2 separate regions of the Homo sapiens genome follow, and region 2 is linked to region 1. Evidence: fine-mapped expression QTL. A gene starts in region 1. The other region holds a variant in brackets. All regions are shown on one strand. Distances are between the middles of the regions.

Region 1 (13,044 bases):
GGTTATTTCATGTTTCAAGAAATAAAAATAATGAAGATGTGTTGAAAGGATGGAGAACACATTTAGGAAGCACAATAAGTCACTAACACATGTGTACAATCAGGAAGAACTTAAGTATAGGTTAGAACATAAGTCTTAGTACAATCCTCTACAATGCAGACTTCATGAAACCATAGATTTGTGTTTATTTTCTTCAATGCAATATAGCCAGCTCTTAGAACAGTCCCTGGCACACAGTAAGCAGTCAATAAGTATTTGTTGAATGTAAGAATAACTAACAGCTCACCTTGCCTTGCCTTTATAAATGGGTGTCTAATATTGCCTCATTCTGGGATCCTACCATTCCTGTGACTAGCTGTTCTCTTATTCTGCTTCCATCTCTTTCTGTTTCTACTGCCACAGCCAATCACCAGCCCTCCACCCTGCTGCTCTCTGCTCCAACAGCAAACTTTTGACTAGTTTGTAGTTTCTGCTTTCTGTCTTGTTGTGGTGCTTATCCTGGTTTTGCAATACTCCAGAGTTTGTACCTCTACTTGAAGTTTTCTGCTTGCATGCCAAAGAAAGAAAATTTGATTGGTTAGTTAGTTGGTTACTATCCCATGTAAAAATATTCTAATAAGACATAGCTTTCATGCTAGATTATTTTATAAGCCCACTATCTAACTGCATAGTTTTCAAATTTGCCTACAGAAAGGAAACCACTTTATATTGAACTCAACACTCAAAGACACACACACCACACACACACATACACTCACATACACATTAGAATGAACAGTTCATGAAACAACACTGACCCTTTTTAGTTCGATGTATTCTGATTTATTCTATTGTACTCTATTCATTTCATCTATTCAGTTCCATTCTATTTCAATTTATTCTATTTCACTTAAAAATGTTGATAAATTGATTAATGACCCACAAACTAGCCAAATATATTAGGTTGGTGCAAAAGCGATTGCGGTTTTTGCCGTTACTTTCAATACAATTTTAAAAATCCTGATCTAGTTGCAGATGGTCAGTTTTGGTTTGAACATCAATTTTCCACCCAGTGATCTGTGGTCAGTCATCTGTGGTGAGTCAGGGCAATGGAGTCATATAGTACCGGGCAAGGAAAATTGGATCCATGGCTCAGTTCTTTCAGGAGAAAGGAACCACTTGTGTGAGAGGCAATTCTTTCTGATGCAAGCAGATTCCTGCATTTATTTCTGCAAATAAATATCCCTCCGTTTAGTTCTCCCCTTATCCTTCCCCACTCAGCCCTGTTCATAAACTTACCCTTGCCAAAATGTCAATTGATGAATCCTTGCCATGGCAATCCCTCTAAGTTGTATTTCTGTTTTAATGCCATCTTGTTTAACTAATTTAATTTAATTGTTCTTGAGAGCAAACCATGTTTGAAGCTGAATCATCTGTTTATCACAATAAAATAATAGGTGACAGCCCAGAGGCAGGTGATGTTTTGGGGACACCATGCCTTTCTTTATGCTTCTTCAATCATACATCTTCTTCTAACACAGGTCCTGTAGTAAATCAAGAGACTGTCTCTTTTCCCCAATGGGTAGCCTATACAGGACTCAACTCCAACCTAGAATGTTACATGGAGAATTTCCTGAGGAAATTCCTGAGAATTGCTTAAAGTGTTAGGCAAATTTTGACTAATAAGTAGTTCTTGGCTCCTTATAAACAATCAATTATTGGAACATTAATGAATAAATAAATTAATTCTGTATGGTAGATGAACAATGGCCCCTCCAAAATGTCCTTGCCCCAATCCCTGGTATATGTAAATATGTTACCTGACATGGCAAAAGGAATTTTGCTATTGTGATTAAGGGTCTGTACCTTGAGATGGTGGGTGGGAAGGGGCTGATCCAGATTATCCGGGTGGCCTCAATGTAATAATGAGTCCTTCAAAGCAGAGAAGCTTTCCTGGCTGTAGTCAGTGAGAGAGATGTGATGACGGAAGGATCAGAGATGCGGCAAAAGAGCACTCAGCCTGAAGCTGCTGGCTTTGAAGAGGGAAAAAGAGATCTGCCCCCAGAAATGTGGGTGGCCTCTAGAAGTTGGAAAAGGCAAGGGGATGGATTGTCCCCCTAAAACCTCCAGAAAGAAAGAAATGTGGTCCTGCTGACACCTAGAATTTAGCCCAGTGAGACTTGTAGCAGCCTCCTGACTGCCAAACTTGTAAGACGTTAAGTTCGTGTGGTTTAAACTACCAAATGTGTGGTAATTTGTTGCACCAGCAATTGAAAGCGAATACAGTTAGAAGGAACATGTTAGCACCAGAAGAATGTGTGAAACTATAAGAAGCCAGCCTCATGTAGACTCCAACATCCGAGGTGGAAATTCTAATGGGGTATTGGATGGGTAACTTAAAGCATTCCTCTTCTATGTCAGAGAACACTGGGATTTGGCCCCTTGTCAGTGAACCTATCTGTGTCTCTGTGTTCAACCTTTTAATCTCAAGTTAGAGAATAGAGCTCACTGTGGCATAATACTTATTAGGTACATAAAAAATAAGAGACAATATTCCCAGGATATAAAATGTACTGCTTCTTTCTGACAGAGTTTCCAATTGTCAGAAAAATTTATCTACTCGTAAAATCCCACTAATGATGTCCACAGAACGTAACAGTAGGTGAATAGATGTTAATATTTTTTAAAAGTTTTGCATTTTCTTGTGCAAAATTTAAAAATGTGCAAGATATTTACATATATATATAATGAAGCCTATTATCTAAACATATTGGAAAATGAATTAGGAATATCTGCCACCCCCTTGTCTTGGGTTTATAGAATATAATTAAACATCGATATTCCATTCTCAAAGAACTTACTCACTATCTGGTATTCCAGAAACTCAGAGTAAATTATTTTTCCCACTAAAGTGGGTGAAGTAATTGATATGTTTGTCCACACACAGACACATACACATATATTTGTTAATGGAATGCACAAAAAGTGCTATTTTAATAGAGAGACACAAAATATTACATATTCATGGGACTTAGGGACAAAACTATGCCTTGGAAATTTTCTGGAAAATCACATAAGCTCCAAAGAAGTTGATACAAAGGCAGCTAAAGATCTTGGTTTGATAGTGGCAATTCTACCAATACAAATACAAAGGAATCAACAAATGGACAACTCTTTAGATTACAGTTATGACACAAGCAATCCACAGGCATTCCAGTGAAAACTGCACAGAGCTCTCTCTGTTGTTACTTGCAAAAGGCTAGCATGGAAATATCTTGTGTTCATGTGAAGAGTTGGCCCATATTTCCTTGCGTGTTATCCTGAAAGCAACAAATGACAGAAAAGAGTGATGAACATGTAAACCACAGCTTTGTGGGGGTCATTTTATGGATGATTCATCTTATGGTTGAGTAAGGCTCCGAAAAGATGTGATGAAGGAAACTATGAAATTGTTAACAACAACTTGGCTCACTTTCTTAATCTGGGGCAATAAAATCAATCTGACCTAAATTTACTCTGGCCCTAACATTTTACTATGATTTCAGCTATTCACTGAAATTAACTGGTAAATGGCATAGTCAAATGTTTTCAGAAAGTTACAGGATGATAATGACTCAGGGACAAAGTGACCCAGAAAACGGATGTCATAGCAGCCCGGGTTCTGAGAGTCAATACATACTGAAATAGGACAGAGAAAAAACTCCAGGGGGAACTTTCTTCCAAACTTGCAAATGTGGCCTTTCTCTTTCCAAGATAATGTCATACTAAGAAAAATCTGAACAAGGGGGGAATATGCTGTTTCCTATCACTCTTTCTGGTATATTTGTACTACAGGGGCCAAACATGAGTGACTTTAACATACGACATAGGTCACTGAAGGATACAAAAAAAAAAAAGAAAAAAGGAAACAAAAATCCTTTTGATTATTAAATAACAATAAGCAATAGCTTGTGTGCTTGAGTTCCCTCTCCAGTGTAGGAAACCACTAGTTCTGCTCCCTCTGAGATACAGAGAAGGGGTAGAGTCTAAATTCTAACCCTAGTTAAGAGAAAAAAATTACCTCTGCATTAATGAGCAACCTGACAGCTTCCATGTGGTCAGGCAAATTTTAAGTTAGAAGGAACTTTAAGCAAGACTTCCTCATTTTATTGACCAGTTTAATGTAGGTCAAATATATATACATGTACTCCAGGCACTGTGGAGATTTAGGATATTTAGAGATAAATAAAATCCAGTACTTGATCTGATGGAATCTAAATATACTGGGGTAGGTAGTGACAACGTGGTAAGAGTTGTGTGAGAGGTTCGTATCACTCAGAGTTTTTAGCTTCAAGCAACAGCAAATGACTGTGGCAGATCTAAACCGAAGAGCAACACACCAAACTTCAGTCCCAGAATTGCTGGGAGGGGCTTAAGAATCAGGCACACAGCTTACGAAGCCAGAGCAGCCCCCAAAGCAATGCCACTGAATAGGTTCCTTGTTTCTGCTAAGGCCCAGGAACCACAATTTGCATGACCAACGCCATGAGCCCTGGACTCTGCACCCCACGGCCACCACAGTCACATCCGGAACAGCAGGTTGTTTGCACAGCTGCCTCTGCTCACCACAAGAGTGAGTTCTCTTCTGTCCCTGCTTCTTTGTGTCAGCAGTTCCTAATTCCTGGTCCCAGATAGCCATGTCTGATTGCCATTCTAAGTGCTTTGCCTCTCCCTTATCTACAAGCGCAGCTGGGACAGTGAGTCATTGGGATTTCAGCTTCTATGTTGGTTGTGACCATTGCGTAAGTCAGTACAAGAAACATGGTAGGGGTAAGGAGGTCAGAAGAGACTTTCTTAAGGAAGTGATCCTGAGCCATGTGCTGAGGATGAGCTAAGGCCCCAACTTTACATAGCTGGTGATACTCACACAAGCAGGCTAAGGGGCCTCCAGTCCTTATGACATAATTAGAGGAGAGCTGGGAGGAATTTCCAGACAACAGCCACCTTCACCAGCCAGCCCTTTTGTCTGATGGTCCACACAAAACTCATTGTATGAGTCAGCAGGATCTAGAAGGTTCACTTCCTCCACAGTGGCCGACAGCTAGAAGACACAGCAGAGCATGTGGGGACCAGGAGAATCCCATAGAGGCAGAGGTGTGAGGAACTAGCAACTGTGGAAAGAATTCCCTTCCCTGAGGGAGGAGATCAGTGGTTAAGAACTATTTAAATAGTCCAAAGTGCACAGTTTAATCTTTAGAGCCCGTAGATTAGATAATAGGAGAAGGGATCCATAAATGCTGGAGCTGATAATCAAAAATCATAGATAGAGGTAGGGCCAGGTTTCCAGGACCATGGGACTGAGGACTCTAGGGAGCCCAGTCCTTGGGGAGCTGTTAGAAAGGCAAGTGCACAGCAGGGATTGGAGCTGGTAAACAGTGAGTGCTGACCCACTAGGGCTTTCATTTCGGGTACTGTCAAGGGTTCAATTGCTAGATTTAATGCTTTGCCTTTCTGCAAATAAAGGCTGTGGGAGCCACACCAGACCAGACTGCAGGGGGATTCTGATAACAGTACTCATGCATGGCATTTAGGTAGCTTTTTAAATGTAAATGTTTTCCGGGAGACATAAAGATGGCATTAGGCATTAACACACACACACCTTAGAGTTAACATCTCAGTTATTTTATGTGTTGATTGTTTATCACAAACATCTACTTGTACATTAATGAGTTAATGAAGTAGGGATACAATGAGGCCTTGCCTTCAAATAGGAATGTAAGACTGCATAGGTACACACACACCCATGTAAACCAATGAAATGAGATATACAATGTGTTATGAGAGGAGCAGATGCAATATTATGAAATTGATTAGGAGGAAGAGAATAACTCAGATTAAGACAAACTGAGAAGGACATCTTGAAGAGTGTTTTTCATTGAGCTTTGGAAAAAATGAAATCTCTGAACATTTCAAGATGAGCAAAAATGGTTTCAGGGAGGAGAAATGCCATGCAGAATGCCCTCTGTAGGGTTTGGGGAAATTAAGAACCATTTGTTTTGGAAATAATATAATGACATAAAGGAAAGCTAGGTTCTAGTAGAGAGTTGAGGAACCTGTGACAAAAAGAAACAGAACAGCTCAGTTTGGATTGTGGGATGAGTCAAGGGGAAACTTCAAAGGGAATCTGGGTGGATTAGGTGATCTGGCAGCATGAAGCCAGGGATGCATCAGGGAGGAAGGGGTGGTTAGAACAGTAGGAGAGAAAGTGCAGAAAAGGGAAAGGAAACTTTTTCTTTGTCACCATTCTGCCATCTACTTACATTAGATGAATCCTTCTATTATGTTTCTGAACCCAGACCCAGCCAGGACTTGTCTCTATTCATTTTCTGGGCTGTGTCTAACAGGAGATAATAGGCTAGAGAGAGATGCTGTATGAACAAATAGAGAAACACATTTGTTTTAAACATTCTCTGTTGCTGATGTTGGAAAAAAATGTGAAACAATTATTGCACATTTCATTTCACTAAGTTTTACCTTTTTTCCCCTTTCCCCTAATTTTCTCTTTCTTGAATTTTGAACAAAATACACAGAAGGAAAACACAAAACACAGAAATGGAAAGTAAAATGGAAGAAAATATCAAGAAAACTTTATTCTTGCTTATATTTTAAAAGGCACATTTTAAAGTGTTATCTTAAAAATCCAGAGCATTTTAGAAGATGAAATGCCAAAAGGTCTCCATTATGTCTATATGTCTATGTCTTTGAGTGACAATCACAGTGCTGATGTAGAGGGAAAGGGGGAACTAGTTAGACACTGTCACTCACCTGGGAAGGCTTTATTCACCTGTTCCACAGGGCAGTGAGGCACCTTCAGCTCTGAATCACCGAAAGAGAATCTGGTGGGGCAAGTTCCAGCTGCATGAGGATTTGCTTGCATAAATATTTTTTACTTATTGCTAACACTGAGGGTGCCTTCTTACTCCCTGGCAAACATTAAACCACTTTTATTTCCTTTCATGGAAATAAGATTATATTTACAGATGGTTCTTAGATATACTCACCTGATTTTTTTTTAATTGCTTTTCCACCTGCTTCCCCTTTCTTCTTAGGGTGAAACTCTAGCCATACGCCCTCTTCTGGTTTCGGGTGAGGAGCCTGAATTGTGGGTATCGTAGTTCTCTTGCCTTTTGGGGTTTCTAGTTGGGCAGCTTTGGAGCCACAGTGGTAGAACTTCAAGTCCCAGGTGGCTCAGGAAGCAGGGGTGCAGTTGCCTGCCTGCATACGGAGCAAGGCATGTTTGAAGAGTACCCGGGTTTGGTAGAGTGACTTCTATTCACTAAAACCATGTGTCTGAACTGAAGAAGCTTGGGCTCACTTCCACAAATGTAAGTGCTGATTTTTTAAAAATAATATTCCTTTCACTATTGATATGTGCTACACACTAGGAAGTTGTATAATTTCCAGAAAAATGTAACAAACCAGCTGCTTAACAAATCAAGCCCTGCTTAAATAAAGGGAAGGTAACTGGTATTCTGTGGGCTTATGGGACATGTGTTAGAATAAACCTCATGACATAGAATAGAATAATACCTTGAGACATGGTTTAGAATAAAGTAGTTTATTTTAAAAAAAAGGAGGAACCCAGGTCACATTAACCATCAAAGGCAAAAACAAAACACTCTATGAGTTGCTTAAAATATGTAGATGGCTGAAATCCCCTAAAAACTTTAAATATCTCAAAAAGCATACAGGTATGTTAAAAAGACTGTGCTTTGAAGATAGATAAAGTTGCAATCAGCAGCCCCACTGCTTATTAGATTTATGACCATTGACAAGATGTTTCACCTCGCAAAGTCTCAGTTTCCTCATCTGTAAAGTGTGTGTGCATAACCTACCTCATTAGGTTAATAGCATTAAATTATGAATAAAAGATAATCATGTAATTAAGTTAAGGGGGTCATTAAATTAGCACAGTGCATTGTACTGAATAGACAGATGATACATGATGGAGGGTAACTTGGCTTCATCCTAATTAAGTTTCAATTAAGCTTGGAAAACACACCAAAGAAACAAAAAGACAAATACTGGATGATTCAACTTACCTGAGGTATCTGGAGTAGTCAAACTCACATAAATGATACTTAGAATGGTAGTTGCCAGGGGCTTGGGGGAAGGAGAAATGAGAGTTGTTTAATGGATATAGAGTTTCAGTTTACAAGATGAAAACACTTGGAGACTGTACAATAATGTAAATATATTTAATACTATTGAACTTAAAATTTGTAAGTGTAAACACTTACAAATGGTTAGGATGGTAAATTGTATGTTAAGTTTTTTACCACAATTAATAAAGATAGATTTTAAAAAATTTATTTTTAAGATCAAAAAGCATGTAGTGAAAATTCCAATGCCTTCCATTTATTAAAGGTCTTCCTAATTTCCTAAAAATGTCTTAAGTCTATATTCAGTGGGTCTAATTTAGGATTGATATTGACTTATCTATGTTAATGTCTGGTTTTTACATAGCAATTACTGGGTGATAATGATGAATTTCAGGTATATTCTTAAAGTTGTCTTAACCTCAGTGGTGATTCTTTTATGCCCCCCTGAACTTAATTACATGATTATCTTTTATTCATAATAGCGATTTTTAATATGATTTCATGGGTAGTGTACAGAATCTAGAAATTATGAAGTCATAATTATTAGTTACAATTTGCTTAAAAGCTTTAGTTATGACTCATTTTTAAAACTTAAAGCAAAAATATTATTTATTCCAGTTTTCTCAACTTCCTTGTAGCTAATTTACAAATAGAATATTTTTATCTGTTTGTGTTTTAGAGATAATAAAAACTATTAAGGCAAAGTTTGTTAAACACCATCTTATCTTAAAATGTATTGGCTGATTTGGAGGACAAAAGACATTTTGGAATTATACTAATTTTGAACTTGAAGACATGTCTGTTGAATTTTTAGAGAATTCTTTCTTGAAAGACCACACATATGCCTAGGTGTCTATTAAGACTAAACATCCCTTATGGCATTTGGTGATAAGTGAAGGTGATAACAACCAGCATTTCAGATGACTGTGCAGAGTTTTACATGTGATATGCCATATATTAATAAATGTAAACCCTATGTCAGCAAGTCCAGGATAGAATTAGAATGAAACTTGTAATTCTCCAAAGGTGGAGGAAAGCTGCAGAGGCACTGAACACTGTATACTTCTAAAAGGGTGGCTTTTTTTGTTGTTGTCAAGTGCCGTCTATGGTGTAGTGTCTCTAGGAAGTGTCATTCATTCAATTGACAAAGATTTCTAGCAATCCTGCAATATACTCCCCCTGGGCTGGGTTTAGAGGCTAGAAGAAACTCATGCACAGCCCTTGAGGGGATCCTTATCTACTAGCAGAGATATGACCTCATAAATAGTTAAAGAGAGTAAGTGCTAATTCATTAGTCATTCATGCTGTTCATAGAGTCACTCCACAGAAAGTGTGATGCTCAGTATCAGGGGATTAAAAAGACACCTTCAAAAACCTTTCTTTCAACTATAATTACTGGAGACCAAATAAATAAATAAATAAATAAATAAATAAATAAATAAACTTGAGATGTATATGAGTCATTCAGAAGCAGAGTGGAGTGACTTCCTAAAACACAGAAGAGACGCGTACCCAGGCTGCCAGAGGAAGGGGCAGTCACAGTGCCCTGAATTTCAAGAGGACATTGTGGGAGGTGGTGGAACTTTAAGCAGGCCTGGAAAAATGTGCAGAGTTGAGATGGGCAGGAAAAGGTCATGAAAGTATCTCACGTACAGCAGTGTTTTCCAAACTTTCGCACATTAAATGATTTTCGGAAACATATGGACTGATCAATCAATAACAATAACATTAAGATTACAGATTGAGAAAGTTATATTTTTTGACTTAGTTTCAATTCTTCAGAAATAAGTTTTGTTGTTTTTGATATGACTTAAACTTCTCCAAACACTTGTTTAAGCTTCCTTTATAACACTCACAGAATAAGCAATAAATGTTAGTAGGCAAAAAGTACTTAGTTTAATTTAATTACTGCTTTAAAATAACATTTATATATAGTTATTGCCTATTTATTACAATAGATATCAGCTTTTTTCATTTATGGTACTAATAGACATTAACCTTTCAAATATTTGTCTTACTTAAAATAAGAGTGAATTTACAGGAAATATTAAGTAAAAAGTAGTTCAGGTGGCAATTGGTAGTGGAAAAATCATGATGAGGTACCAGAATGAGTGAAGTTTGGGAAACACTGAAGTAGGGGGAATATCAAGCACAAGAATTAGGAAGTGAAATTGAATGGGCTGTTTTTATGTGTAGCTGGAAAGAAAGGAGGGATACTGGGTATTCCATGGAGGGTATTCTAGGGGATTTTGGATGATAATGCTGGAATAAGGTTGGTTGTGGAAGCTTTAAAGGGATTTATTCTTCAGCGGCTGGATAACAGGGGGCTCAAAATGGTTCTGACCAGGAGCCAACTGTGGAAATCCATACTTTAGCGGGTTCCTCCTGGGCATAGTGTGCAGGAGGATTGGAGCATAGGGAATATGACACCAGGAGAGCTCTTTGGAAATAGGTTTCAATAAGCTGAACATGAATAAATGAAGAGTGGTAGGAATTAAAATGGAAAAGAAGCAGAGGATGAAGGAGTAATTCAATAAAAAAGAAAACTGAATAATAATAATTATAGTGACAGCCAAGCTGCTCTTGAGTTTTTATTTATTTTATTTTTAACTTTTATTTTATGTACAGGGGTACATATGTAGGTTTGTTACATAGGTAAACTTATGTCATGGGGCTTCGTTGTACAGATTATTTCATCACCCAGGTATTAAGCCTAGTACCCAAGTTATTTATCTTGACCCTCTGCCTCCTCCCACCCTCCACCCTTCAATTGGCCTCGGTGTGTGTTGTTCCCCTTTATGTGTCCATGTGTTCTCATCATTTAACTCTCACTCATAAATAAGAACATGCAGTATTTGGTTTTCTGTTTATGATAGCCTCCAGCCCCATCCATGTCCCTGCAAAATACATGATCTTGTTCTTTTTTATGGCTATGTAGTATTCCATGGTGTATATGTACCACATTTTCTTTATCCAGTCCATCATTATGGGCATTTAGATAGATTCCATGTCTTTGCCATTGTGAATAGTGCTGCAATGATCATATGTGTGCATATGTCTTCATAATAGGATGATTCATATTCCTTTGGTTATATACCCAGTAATGGGATTGCTGGATAAAATGGTATTTGTGTCTTTAGGTCTTTGAGGAATTGCCAGACTGTCTTCCACAATGGCTGAACTAATTTACACTCTCACCAATGGCATATAAGCGTTCCTTTTTCTCTACGACCTCACCAGCATCTGTTATTTTTTGACTTTTTAGTAACAGCCATTCGGACTGGTGTTAGATGATATCTCATTGTGGTTTTGATTTGTATTTCTTTAATGATCAGTGATGTTGAGCTTTTTTTCATATGATTGGTAGCCACATGTATGTCTTCTTTTGAAAAGAGAGCTTCCAAAGGGAAGGGTGGGCCACCATCTTTGCATTTTCCACATCTTAATTATTCCAGCCTGTGGGCTTTGGAAATGTCAAGTCGACCAAGGTGGAAGTGGTATCCCAGCACAGAACAGCTGCTCTACGAAAACATGACCATACAGCTTCTTTAAGCCAGTCCCTGATCTCATTTCTTTTTACTAGGTGGAACCTACCAAATGGGGTCTCCAGCCACTCCCGCTAGTATTCTTCCGCCTACAGAAATTTGAAAACTCCCTGGGCCAGAACTCCCAGAGGGAGGAGCGGGCTGCCATCTTTGCTGTTTGAGCCTCTGGAGTTTTTAAGCTTGGTGGTCTGAGAGAAGGACAGTAGCACTGAAGGAAAGGAGAGGGAACTGGTTCTTGTGGGGAAATGCAGCTTTGTATCTCAGGTGATTTGAAATTGAGAGGAGAATGGACCTTCAAGCAGAAAAGGGAAACTATGTTGTTAATCATGTGGGATTGGAATTCTGGAGTGCCATCAGGGAGGGCCAGATAAATGGAGGAGACAAGTATGTTCCTCATTAAAATGACACCTAGCTCCGCTTTTCCTCCTGCCCCACTCAAGTTTCCAGGAGAAGAGAGCTGAAGAGAGATTCTTCAGGTACTCAGGGATGGGAAGGCAGAGGAAGGGCATGCTGACTCTTTCCTCCCAGGTTTTGTTTTCTCTTGGTTACTGTGGCCACCACCTTGCCCAGAGATAAGAGGCTTCTTTATAGGGGCCTTCCTTGGAATAAACAGAAACATCTTCATCTCCAGCCAGAACAGACATCAGGTTTAATTTCCAGGAATGGTAGAAGAGTTTTGTATGTTTTCTATTTCCACTGGGAAGACACCTAATTTAGATATTTCCCCAATACATGTAATATGTAGTAGACATTTAAAGATAGATATTGCAAAGACTTATGTACTCACCTCCCAGTTTAAGAAATAAAATATTAAAGATAAAAAAGTACCCTGCTTAATCCTATTCTCTTTTCACCCTCAAAGGTTACCACTATCCTATCTTTGTCGATATCACTGCAGTGTATGTTTTTATTCTTTTCTTTTTTAAATGCTTTTATTCTTTCCACTGCTGTGTATGTGAAGATATCCATAAACAACAGTCTATAAGATTGTTTTGAATGTTTGAAAATTTTGTGGAAACAATAAAGTATACATTATTCATCTGCAACTTGCTCTTTTCTCTCTACATTATACTTTTAAGATTAATCCATGTCTATTCTTACAGCACAACTTATTTTCATGGCTGTATGGCATTTTGCTATCATAAGTAGTACTATAAAATATTATAGTACATTCCTATTTGTGTCCAAATGAAAGAATTACTCTAGTGAATATTTGCAGAAACTGATTTGCTGAACCGTGGGCATGTGTACCTTCAACTTTATGAGATATTGAGAAATTGCTTTCCAAAACATTTATAACACATTATATTCCCAGCCAAAATAGGAGTTCCTGTTTCTATTCTAAACATACTTGTTTATCTCAAATGTTCTAATCAAAT
Region 2 (13,044 bases), 72 kb after region 1:
TACGTACGAGGTCACTTAACTAATGGGTAAATATATGCTAATTTCCAACCTCCTAAAAAATAGCTGTATAATTTTTCTCTTTGGGAGGAGATTCCTAAATATGATCAATTTACAATTCAAGTAGTTGATTTCAAAGCACACTGATATTAGTTCTGGGTAGGGGGTGCAGAGGGAGGGAAGTGCACTGGGGCAGGGAGATAATTAGGTCTAGCAGTTGCTGGGCCGCTTTTTTTCCTGTATGTCATTTCCTCAGAGGGCACACACTCCAAAAACTGCCTTCTATGTGTGCCAATGCCTGCAGTTGAGCTGTTTCGCTTACTTTCTCTCCTTTAACTTCTTTCTCTTCCCTTTGTTCTATTTTTATTGTATCTTAGGGAGAGTTATCTGGCACTGACTCCGTGACAGACACTGTTCTGGAAATATTACAAAAATTAATTAATGTAATCCTTTCAATAAAAACTCATGGGGCAGACACTAATATCTAAGATATGGAGAGGATAAGTAACTTGCTTAAACATACACAGCTGGAAAGTCCTGGAACCATGTTTAGAGCACAGACATTTGACTTCAGAGTCCATGACTTTAACCATTACACTCTGTCCATCACTGTTTAATATGGTGACTATGTTGCAGAGTCAGAAGGTGCGGCCAGGGTTAAGCAACTTGTTTCATTTTTTATTTGTCCTCTTTTCAGGCCATGTCAAGTAGCCATGATACTATCAAAAATTGCCTCAAAATTAAATCTTTACCAAGCCTCAAGCTGGTTAAAAAATGAAGTATATTAATAATAAATTTGTCAGATTTTCTGAACACCTTAACCATTTCTTAATTTTTTCTAAGGTGAAGAAAAAGCCTCTCTTTGGAAACTTTTGAGAATGTCACTTTTGAAATTAACCATCTCCTCAAGTTAAATTTTAAGAAATGTTACTCGACTTTTCTAATGACATGGTAATTACTACATAAAAGCAAAGCTGTAAAGCTTGGAATCTGATAATAAGCAAAGTATGTTTTTCAGAGTATTTCTTTCAGAAAAAATGCACTTACACTATACAAAGATGTCACTATTGCCAAGGTTCTTCCGTGAAAGTTAGTGAAAATTTATTGGCATTTTCTGAATATATTTAGAGTTTTAATTTTTTAAAAAAGGAATCAATAGCATATTAGAAAAATAGCTCACTTTTTAAATGTTGAATTTTACAAGGGGACATGCTGGGGATTCAGAGATAAGAAATTCACTGGCCTAAATTGGGTGCTCTTCACTTAGCCTTCTAGGGATGGTTACCACAAATGACAATACTTTTTCTATGGCTCCCTCATTGGCCCCCTTGCTTAACAATATAGATTATGCCATTTTTATCTTGTTTAATAAGGACACATATTCACCAAGGACACTAAAGTTTCACTTCCTTTCTTTTTTTTTTTTTTTTCTCCTTTGAGACAGTGTCTGGCTCTGTCACCCAGGCTGGAGTGCAATGGCACAATCTCAGCTCTCTGTAACCTCCACCTCCCAGGTTCAAGAGATTCTCCTGCCTCAGCCTCCCAAGTAGCTGGGATTACAGGCGCATGCCACCATACCTGCCTGATTTTTGTATTTTTAGTAGAGATGGGTGTTTCACCATGTTGGCCAGGCTGGTCTCGAACTCCTGACCTCAGGTGATCCACTCACCTCGGCCTCCCAAATTGCTGGCATTACAGGTGTGAGCCACCACTCTGGCCTCACTTCCTTTCTTCAATTACCTTTGCCCACTGGGCTCTACCTCAGCCACAGGCACCAATAGTCCTGTTGATAATAGTTTCTTATCTGACCTGCCAGAATGGGCCACTCTCCCAATGGAAGCCAGCGAAGTCAATGTTCCTAATGGTAATTTTTTTTCGTCTCGGAAATTACTCACCTGTAGAGATTCATAATTGGGAAGATGTATTTTAAGTCTATTTGTAGTCACCATTTAATCAATGCAGATCTAATACTCCTTTGTATCTTCTATTCACAACCTGTTCCTCATTTTCTGACTGGCCGCTGGAGAGTTCAAAGTACTTTGTTCCAAGTCTAGATTAAAGATAAGAAAGTTGTTGATTTTCAAGAAGTTTTAGTCATTTTCTATAAGTGAATGAATTCCACATGGAATTCTTTCCACTTATTTAGTATCTTATATCTGTGTCCTAGCCTTCAGTATTTAATTCATCCATATACTTAACGCTTATTCTGGGTCTATCAGTTCTGGACATTGGTTTAGGAGCCGTAAAAAACACACAATATGATTATTTTTTCCTTAAAAACCAGGTTTTACTTTGGCCTGGGAATTGGGATAAACTGTTAATATTTGAATTGTTATAATATTTCTTAAAAGTATAGGACTAGATGACAATGTTAATAGTTGTAACTTACCAAATGTTCATTGTCAGCTAGTCATTATGAGCATTTTCTTTACAGTATCTCTATTATTTCAATATACTTTGTAAGGAAAACATTATAGCCATCTGCTCTTTACATATATACAAACTGAAGGTGAATGTATTTGTGTAATTTATCCAGTTACATGGCTATTAAGGGCAAGTACTTAGATCTGAATTCACGTTGTCTTATATAAAGTCCTAACCACTGTATTATACTAATGATAAGCCCTTTCAAATTTAACTTACTTAAAAAATATCAAAGTGGTGAGGAGTAATTAGGAGACATGCTAGCTTTGAAGGATGGGTGGCCTTTGAGTAATTGGAGAGGAATAGAAGTAGACTTCAGTGCTTCTAAATATCAGTGAGCTCTAGGGACCACTGAGAAGATGTGGCCTGGAGGGGAGAGTTCACCTTACTAATTACTGGGTGATGTGGTCAGGTACATATGTTGGTATCAATGGAGGGGAGTCTTCAGTGACTACCAGAGCATAGAGGTTAAGATTCTTGGCTGGACTTCTGTTCCACCTCTACCATCTATCAGCCCTCAAGCCTTGGGCAAATTACTTTACTTTTCTGGGAATCTATTTTGTGTGTCTGTGAAGTAAGGAGAATAATACTATCTTACTCACTGGATGTTTAGAAGATCAAATGAGATAATAAATGTGTAATATTTGGGACAATGTTTTGCATATTGTAATCACTAAATACATATTATTTATTATTTTAATGAAGAGGAAGAGGAAAAGGTGAATTTGATAACTATATAACTTTGAGTAATTTTTGGAAAATAGAATAAAATACACTGTTTTTTTAGTAATGTGACTGAGAGTGCCTATAGGAAGAATGTAAGGAAAAAGTTAGCAGTTATTTCAAGGTTTCTCATCTGAGAAACTGGCAGAATAGCAATGCATGGAAAAAAATGAGATAAAGTCTTGGCTGATCAGCTTATTTCTTATGGGCTTAACAACATTTAATTTTCCTTGGAAATTATCTCTCGCAAAAGTTAAAAGAAATGTCCTTGGGCTGTATGGTTTTCTGGCTTACATGGCAACTTCTGGATTCTGCTTACAGGGATGTTGAATTATCAAGGTCTGTATCAGGGCCTGGTTCAGTTCTAGCCTTGGTACTTAATTCTTTTGTTTGCTGTTCTTTTGAAATGAGAAATATATTTATAATTTCTTAGAGAAGGGAAAAGTATTATATGGAAATTCACATACCAGTTGTAAAATGTATAGAATGATATCTCAAATCTCCATTGTTTGAACTAGAGATTTGGCACAGTGATGTTATTTAGATTACCATTGTCTACTTTGTACAATTTAGATTACCATGTCTACTTTGTACAATTCTATACTTGTTACAAACTTTAATTTCAAAAAGATACTCCATTTTGGGAGGAATGAGGTAGGAAAGAAAACAAAGATAGCACAGTGAAATTTCTGGGGTAACACATTGTATTCCTATGATCTTTGACTTAATTCTATATTATACACTGAAAATCAAATAGAAATAACATGCATATTAAGTTAAACATTATTAAGAAAATTCAAAATGGATTTAAAGACACTATTTAATTTTGACTTTAGGTTTTCTTTTTCAAGCTTTAGTACTAGGGAACATAAACAATAAGGAATTTCAGAAAACCAAAATCCAGCTATGTGTAAGACCAAAATCAGCATTTGTTAGAACTGCTTAATAATGAAATAAAGTTGTGGCAATACTTTAGTAAAATGGCCCTAGATTTATAGCAAGGTTACCTGGGTTCTTTTCCTGGATAGTTGACTGTGATTTTGTTTCTTAACTTTAAACTCAACTATAATTAGCATTAATTGAGCACTTGGTGTGTGCCAAAAACATTTACATCCATTCCTTTGTATACTTAGCAATTCTTTTATAGCATTGGGTACACCTTTTTTCTCATTTGCCAGAAGGGGAAAGCAAGGGCCTAAAGAAAGGTGATAGCTTACCTAAGATCCTGGAGCTACTAAACCAAGAGTCTAGATTTAAACCAAGATGTGTGCCGCTAAATCCAGAGCTCTTGACACTGTATTTTTTCATTTGTTTTAATGTTTACATTGAAAAATTAAATTGAAGGAGCCCAATTTCTTTAAACATTGGTGTCAGTTGTCTCCATGAATATATGTTTTTGGCAGGGGCATGGGTGGCAGTGATGATGAGGAGGCAATGAGGAATCCTCCCAACTAGGAATTGGTAAGATGGCTTAACCAGCAGGTTTTCCTATAATGTTAGACTATTTAAGCAGATGCACTAGCAAGGAATAGGTCCTCTGTCTTCCTCTGGCTCATGCTTAACCCCTGAAGTTCCAAGTGGTTATTCTCACCCAAATTTAGCTGGTTGTCCTCAAATAGACTTTTTCAATGGAATCTTGTGTCAAGTTTTAACCAAGCAGCATCTCCCTCGTGAGGACATAGGGGCCCCCAGATATGTTAGCCTCCCTTCTCTTCTGAAGACAACAGCAATCTTACCTTCAACAATATTTATGTACTTACTAATTATAGGTAATGTTAAATGTTAAGTGTTAAAGCTTACCTGAATATTGTAAATGATGTACTGAGGATAGAACACATGAAATAATCATTAAGAAGGCAACCTTGCCTTAATACTTCTTCAGCTAATGGTACTGAAAATGAAGTGTTGTTCCTGTAAGTTTATAGGAGAAGTAAGTGGATTACTAATCCTTTAATGTGACAAAATGTAATTATCCAAAAGTAGTTAAAACCAATTGCATTCTTTATGCTATTCATATTTTATAAGCTAAAAAAAGACATACAGTGCTATGCTGAAATCTGAATTTCTTCTACTCATGTGGCATTTCATTTTCTAGTGCATTTTCTAATGAGTCTTATTGGCTTCTGGGAATGAGCACTCTAAATTTGGAAAACTATGTATGTTTTGCCTTTATTCCTATTTCATTTCTTTTGGCATCCCACTTATTACTTTTTATTGCTCCATTACTTTTTATTTTGTCCTATAACACTGAAAAGATAACCTAAGACACACTTCTTCCACACAAAAGCTTGAACTTTGGAAAACTGCTCAACTTTGTATGTTAAATACTTACTCACGCTGCTGCCCTTTTTTATAAAAAGAAAAGCACATAGATGAAAATTAACAACTTTGTGCTTTTATCAGCCTCACGCTTCCTATTCAAGAATGAAACTGCAACATCATGAAGTTACCATTAAAAATCTAAGAATAGAGGCATAAGAATGCAGCCTATGTATTAAATATTTGTGATAGAAATGAGAAGGCTGAGATAATTTTTGTGGTTAAGAATAATTTAACAACTAAAAAACAAGCCCTCCTGAGAGGGCTTTCCTTTAGATTTTTCAAAACACAAGTGTAGAGTTTCTGCATATCTTTTCTAATCATAACATTGAGCAAGAGAGGAACAACTATTTTTAAAACACAGAATAGATACAAGACAACATAAATCTGGAAGAGATCTTGGCTGTCTGCAACTCCTTTCTAGCCTTCGGAGGATTAAATGTTAGTCAGTCCGGAAAGAAAATTATTTATTCTACGCATTTTATTCCTTCAAACATTTCCAGAAAAGATGACTTCATTTTCTTTGTAATTTATTAAAAAATTTAGAATTTTTTGTGACCTTACTGGGTAGATATTTTAGGGCAAATTTCATAGAGTTTATTGTTAATTAATGTACACAAATTACCTCTTATGTCTCTGCCTTGGATAAAATGTATTTACTGTTTAAGAAAACCAGAATGAAATGAGATAAAAAATGCAGAAAAAATAAAAGTACCTTTAGAACTTGTGTCCAAATGTTCATATATCTATTCCACAAAGGACAATTAAACAACTGATTAGCCTATTTACTGTATTGAAGAGACCTGGACGATTAATCAGGTTTTTTTAAGGCAAAGCTCAAATAGAGATTTACTTTTTTTTTTTTTTTTTCTTTTTGAGATCCAGGCTGGAGTGCAGTGGCATGATCTTGCCTCACTGCAACCTCTGCCACCTGGGTTCAAGCGATTCTCCTGCCTCAGCCTCCCAAGCAGCTGGGACTACAGGCGCGTGCCACCACGCCTCACTAATTTTTGTATTTTTAATAGATACAGGGCTTCACCATAATGGCCAGGCTGGTCTCGAACTCCTGACCTCATGATCCACCCACCTCAGCCTCCCAAAGAAGTGCTGGGATTACTTGCGTGAGCCACCACCCCCAGCCTAGAGATTTACTTATTAAGGGAAAACATAGTTCCCCCAATTTAATATTTTTTATCAGTGTATTAAGTACATAAGTCTTGACATATGCTTTTGTTCTCATTCCTTCTCGATTTCTCATGATACTTGCCCCTCTAATTTTGTGCCCTAACTCCATAATGATTTTAACATCCTTTTGTATTTATGTTTCTGCCAAAGGAAGTTAACCTTTCTTCTTGGGTGCTTTATATATGCTACCTCTTTAAGCCTCATTAACCTTAAGTTCTCCATATGGCAAAGCTAAGATTCAAATCCAAATCCCCTTGCCATCATAGAATATTACTTTAAAAATTTTTTTTCTTTTTAAAATACCTCTATTTTCTACTGCTGCTTGTTCTGGTAGGATATTACTTTTTAAATTTGTTTTTCTTTTAAAAATACCTCTATTTTCTACTGCTGCTTGTTCTGGTTCTGTCTCTCTTCCTTTGACACTCAAATTTCAGATGTGACCCATTTGTTTGGTGTCTTCCATTTCTTTGATACCTGTTTGTACCTGTCGTATGCCCCCGACTATTCTCTTGAAACTGCCTTCTCCAAGTTACCAAAGTCCTGCTAATTTCCAAAATCCTGGATTTGCCAAGTTTTTCTTTATATTCCCACATTGTTGATGTTACAGGTAGCAGTGGAGGTAACAGAAAAGGGAAGTCCTCAGTGTTACACTGGCATATGTTTACCAACCAACCCTGCAGAGGGAAAAAATCTAAACTTATAGCTTTTGTTAATGTTCTTAGTGTAAATATTCCGATCGTACATCATTTTAACCTACCATTGTGGTGTCACTGGAGTTGTGGAACATGGAGTTGGGAGGATATCCAGGGAGCTTGTGTGAGCTGGCTCCAGCAAGCCAATGCATGTCCTTTTTGGGATGTTATTATACTTCTTGGCTTTTGCAAGATGAAGCATGTGATTCACTTTCTTTTTCTTTGACTCCAGCTTCTCCCCATCCTTTTATTGCGTCTATTTCTCTCTTGTATCCACTAATAATTGACTTAGTTGAGAATTAAATTTTGCATCCCTTTTTTCTCTTCCTTGGTGTTTTCTTCTGCTCTCATGTGTTTTGCCATCCCTGTAGCACAAGTGATGCTAAACCCTTGTCTGTCCTCTCAAGGTCATCTCCTCATTCCAACTGTAATTTTTTATCAGATACCCTCCCTTTTGCTTGATATTCAGTAGGGCTGAAAATAGGCTCTTTAGCTTGCCCCTGCCAAAAAAATAAGTACTTTCTTCTCTATCCTATTAAGAAGTATAAATGCAAACTATATGCCAGATACATCATGAGGTATTTTGAACACAAAATTTGGGAATGATTATCCATATTTTATAGATTAAAAAAATTCCAAGCTGAAATAACTTGATTAGTTTATCAAATTAACCTATCAAATAGGCAACAGAACTCAGATGTAGACACAGGACTCTGCCACCCAAACCTATCTTTCTTTCCATTATAGCATCAGTGAATACAACAATCATTTTTTCTCACACTGATTTAAAATATGCAAGTAATTTTTGAGTTTTTCTGTAATTATC[A/G]CATCCTATTTCATCCCCTGTGCCAGTGTTTGTGCAGGTGTCTATCTCCTTCCTACGCTATAAGCTTCTAAAAGCAAGAGTCATGCAATATTCATCATTTTCTTACTGTAACAAAATTTATTGTAGTGGAAGATAATAAACCTTGATTTGATAAGCAAAATAGTTAATGAACAATGATAATGTTGAATATTTTCATTGTATTTATGCTATAAAAGTGTTTCTCTATCATCTTTGTTGAGAGCTACCAATGATTTTGTACACAGAAGATGAATTTTTGCACCAAAGGAATATTCAGGTTTAATTTGCTGCAATGAGGAAGAAAAATGGAATACAGAGTATGCTCATATTTTAGTGTAAATCGTAAAGTTTACCAACGCCCTATTGTTTTCAGCCCAATGCTCTTTTACCCATTTCTAGCCAGATTACAGCTTACACTCCAGGGAGTCTCAAATCGGTTTAGGGCAATATTCCCCCTTGCATTTCAGACAAATTCAGGGGACTCTTGGGAAGTCTTTACACCTTCAAAAATCTTAATTAGGGCCTAGGACTCAGTATTGTACCCAAATTTCTCTGATTTGCAAGAGCTATCGACACTACTCTGTTGTTAGTACAAATTGCCAAATGTAGGGCTGGGCGTGGTGGCTCATGCCTGTAATCCCAGCACTTTGCGAGTCCGAGGCGGGCGGATCATGAGGTCAGGAGATCAAGACCATCCTGGCCAAGGTGGTGAAACCCTGTCTCTACTAAAAATACAAAAAAATTAGCTGGGCGTGGTGGCGCGTGCCTGTAATTCCAGCTACTTGGGAGGCTGAGGCAGGAGAATTGCTTGAACCAGGGAGTGGGAGGTTGCAGTGAGCTGAAATCACACCACTGCACTCCAGCCTGGGCGACAGAGCCAGACTCCGTCTCCAAAACAAAACAAAGCAAAGCAACAACAACAACAACAAATTGCCAAATGTGAGGACGTTATGTGGTGCTCTGCGTAAGTGCATGAGTAGATGTGTCGTCGGACCTTTCCTGAATCTGTAGTTTCTATTTTTTGCATCACCTGTGGTATTTCCTGCCCTCAACAGCATGGAGAAGCTGCTTCTTGACTGAGTGTGCCTAAGGGCTCCTCTACACATAGCAATTCACAGTCCTGCCGCAAGATAGGCCATAGATACAGAGCTTTTCTTCCCATGAAAGTAGGTGGGGCCATATTGGCTGCTTTTGACTGTAAAAGTATTTGAATCTGTAGTGTAGTGGACAACCCCAAAATTACCCTTTTATAATTCTTGAGATGTCTGTTTTCTGCGATGCTTTACACTAATCTACTATGCCATCCCCTTTTTACAGAAATGTTTTAAGTTGCTGTTTATCATAAAATATCTTCAAATACATCATTTATCAGACTCAATCACTAGCAGACTTAGAACAGTCTTAGAAGCCTTTAGCTATAAACACCATTATTTTAAAAAATACGTGACAATTTGAACCAGTTCGTTGAGCATCAGGGACTTTTAAGTGAATAGAAGGTAGTGTCCACGTCTCAGAGATTTTACAGACAGAATATACCCACTACAGAATAATCTATTTGTTTAGTGATTCTTTGCAACTGAGCAGCGACAACCAAGATTGAGTCTGACAAAAAAGGTTCCATTACTATGTCTCAACTGATATTCCATTGTTGAGAAACTAGTGGCAATTGTACTTTGAGAAGTTTGATTTCAATGTAAATCTTCAGAAATATAGATGAGCAGATGCCTCATTCACATTCCATCAGACATAGAAGATAAAATTATTAATCCGGTTGGTGAGGGTAAAACTTATATACAAAAATCTGAGATGATTTTTGTTGCTGCACCATATGCTGATATGGTATAACTTTGATAATTGTCTTTTATTCTCTACCTTGCAAAATTAAGCTTTGTCGAGAGAGATGAGGAAATGGCTGTTCATGGCTTCCCAGGAATGCCAGTTTGGACAAATAACATTAAATTGTCCTTAGAGCCTTTTATGTGGATTGAATCAAATACATAATGGAACTCCCTATTTAGGTCTTTAATTCTTTTAACTTTAAAATTAGACTATATGAGGATATTGGAGGATGGTGAAAATTATATGCCAAGGCTTTAGTTCATGTGATATTACTGAACTGTGATAGAGGTTCTACTTTAAAAGGGCAGTTCTGCATGATATTTAGCTCGGAGTCTATGTTCCTACATTTTGCAAGTGATAGAATCACAACCAAATTAGTTCAGTGAACCCCCCAAAATAAGCAAATAATAAAGTTTATATTTCAAATATTCCACTTACAAGTGCAGGGTTCATTTTGTTGTTTCCCTAGAGAAAATTCATTTTAAGGTGCTGTGTGTGTGACGTGTGTGTGTGTGTGCGTGTGTGTGTGTATTCTACAATTTGTCTTATTTGGTCTGCCTTTGTCTCTATTCTCCCTCTAGCCTGGTTGCCTTGGTTACCATTACATGCATGCTTGTATGTGAAGTTTCTCTTTGACGTACATTTATTTCTATGGAAACAATGACATCATTGGTATGGGTAGGTGCTTAGGAAAAGCAAAAAGAAGCAGCACTGAGTATTGGTTTTTCTTTCGATGATAAAATATATCATGAAATAAATATTTTAAATTAGAGAATTATATTTTTGCTTTCATCTTGACTTGATCAAGAAGCTAGATTTTTGCTTGTTTATAGACTTGCTCGAGTAAAATAATTTAAAATGTTAAATATACTATTTCTCTCCTGATACATTATTTGGTGTCATAAAACTCACCACAGATAGGTATAATAATAATAATTAACTCTAAAAGTCTCTCAAATAGTAAAAAGCCTATCTCAATAACATTTGTTACCATCAAAAAATTGTGCAAGGAATTTTATATTCACATGAAAGCAACAGCAATGTATAGATGATGGATCAAGGGAAAAAAGGCCCTATTTGTAGTTATTATTTTTAAAATCTCTAGTTTTAAAAACACAGGGATATAACAGGAAGCTGATAGTTATTAAACCATATTTTCTATGACATCAAATAAGTCCATGTGTAATTGGTATTCCGTTTTATCTTAAATCTTAAGAGGCTTTTTACATCTTTTTTTTAAAAACGATTTTCCTCTCCTTTCTACTTCCACACTACTCCAATCTATTTTTTTTCTTTATAGATGATGTGGAAACCTGCCTATGATTTTCTGTATACCTGGAGTGCTCACTATGGAAATAACTACAGAGATGTGTTACAAGACCTTCAGTCAGCTTTGGACAGAATGAAAAACCCTGTGACTAAACACTGGAGAGAATTAACTGGAGTTTTAATACTAGTAAATTCTTTGGAGGTTTTGAGAGTAACTGCATTCTCCACTTCTGAGGAAGTATAGAAACAAAGCGTGTGTTTTTGATGGGAGGGAAAATGAGGTAATGGTGTGTGTGTGTGTGTGTCTGTGTGTGTCTGTGTGTGTCTCTGTGTGTCTGTGTGTGTGTGTCTGTGTGTGTGTGTCTGTGTGTGTGTGTGTGTGTGTGTAGGAAAGAAAGAATCTCAGAAAAGCATTATATTAATTTTCTTCATGCTCAAAACCAGTTTTTTTTTCCTGATGAAAGCACAGCCTAACTGATAACCAAGATGGGTTTTATCCTCAAATATGTATTTTTGTGTATGTTTCAAATACAAGTATTAGGCTGCTTTGTTCTTAGAAAGGAAAGAAAAAAGAAAAGTGCCCTCTCTCTCTTTCAGTGTTATTTTAAATTTACTAAGTCAAAGCTGTTTGAATAATTACATCACACAGATATCTGGGTAAACTAGAGACTATCAACATGATCAAGGCAGTGTTCCCAGGAGGCAGCTAGAAAGAGGGGAAGCAAGCACACACCCTGTGGCCAGTCACGGCTGCCCGCTTTCCACACCTGACCTCTTCAGTTCATCAGTGGGGTTCACCAGCATCACCCCCATTTTTCATGGGGAGAAACTCAGAAGTGGAGAGAACGTCTGAGGCTACATAGCCAGTACAAAGTAGGTTTTCTGCTTGAAAAACCTGTTTCTATTTCTTTTTAAAAAATCATACTGCATAACAGAATAGTAAAAACAAAATGCGTGTTAAGACTTACAGGGAAACAGTTGCCGTTTCATTTTAAGTGAGACTTGCTACTCTTTTTCATCGTCTCTTGAAAGACTGACAGAAGGAAAATATGACTTATCAGAAATCTGTTGTCTGCATGCATGGACCTAGTGTTTTCATCAGCTCCCTTCAGCATCTTGGGACCTCTCTAATCCTGCCTAATTTGGGACTTTTTCTGCAGGATTGTAATGTAAAATAGTTCTTTAGCTCTTGGAGATTTTTAATAATACGAGTTATTAAAAACCACCACCACCAGAAACTTGATTAACTTGATTACCCTGTTGAGTAGAGAGGTCTTAACCACCGAAAACACTGATATCTTTATGTTGGCATGCTCATGCAAACACATGTGTGTGTGTGTGTGTGTGTGTGTGTGTGTGTGTGTACCACAGTGTTTTATAAAGCACAGCCTAATTGATTATATAGGACAAAAATTGTATAGGACCCTGGGTCAGTATAAATGCTAATGGCTGACAAAGTTCACAAAGAGATGTATTTTGCTTACTCCTCTGTTCAATCCTCTGGTTGCCTGCCAGTGTTTATGTGTGTATTTGGACAGACATTCATTTATTGTCATTCAGTCAATAGGTAGAGTATATGTGTCTATTTTTTGGCAGGCATATAGATGCTTGAGGCTAATGGGAAAAAACCAGCATGAACTCTGACTTTAGTAGTGCTAAGTAATAGATAATTTTAAAAAATGACACCGTTAAATAGAAAATGGCATGCATACTAACAGTTGCAATGGAGAGGCTGTGATGCTACGAGATATA

The links.
Region 2: its variant is fine-mapped to the expression of MACC1 in lung (TOPMed, PIP above 0.99).

The regions. Positions count from the first base shown.
Region 1 is chr7:20,211,598-20,224,641 of GRCh38, reverse strand. MACC1 (MET transcriptional regulator MACC1) reads left to right here and starts at 7,258. Exons shown (of 7, transcript NM_182762.4): 1 at 7,258-7,343. GIRGL (glutamine insufficiency regulator of glutaminase lncRNA) reads right to left here and starts at 7,065. Exons shown (of 4, transcript NR_134569.1): 1 at 7,020-7,065; 2 at 6,279-6,386; 3 at 4,886-5,059; 4 at 2,942-3,299. RefSeq lists enhancers at 4,525-4,654, 4,219-4,748, 4,665-4,814, 6,234-7,433.
Region 2 is chr7:20,139,438-20,152,481 of GRCh38, reverse strand. MACC1 (MET transcriptional regulator MACC1) reads left to right here. Exons shown (of 7, transcript NM_182762.4): 7 at 11,324-13,044. The coding sequence ends at 11,536. MACC1-OT1 (MACC1 3' UTR overlapping transcript 1) reads left to right here and starts at 12,056. Exons shown (of 6, transcript NR_110114.1): 1 at 12,056-12,165. MACC1-AS1 (MACC1 antisense RNA 1) reads right to left here and starts at 10,566. Exons shown (of 4, transcript NR_046756.1): 1 at 10,462-10,566; 2 at 4,945-5,055; 3 at 1,893-2,047. The variant A/G (reference allele first, on the strand shown) is at 8,167.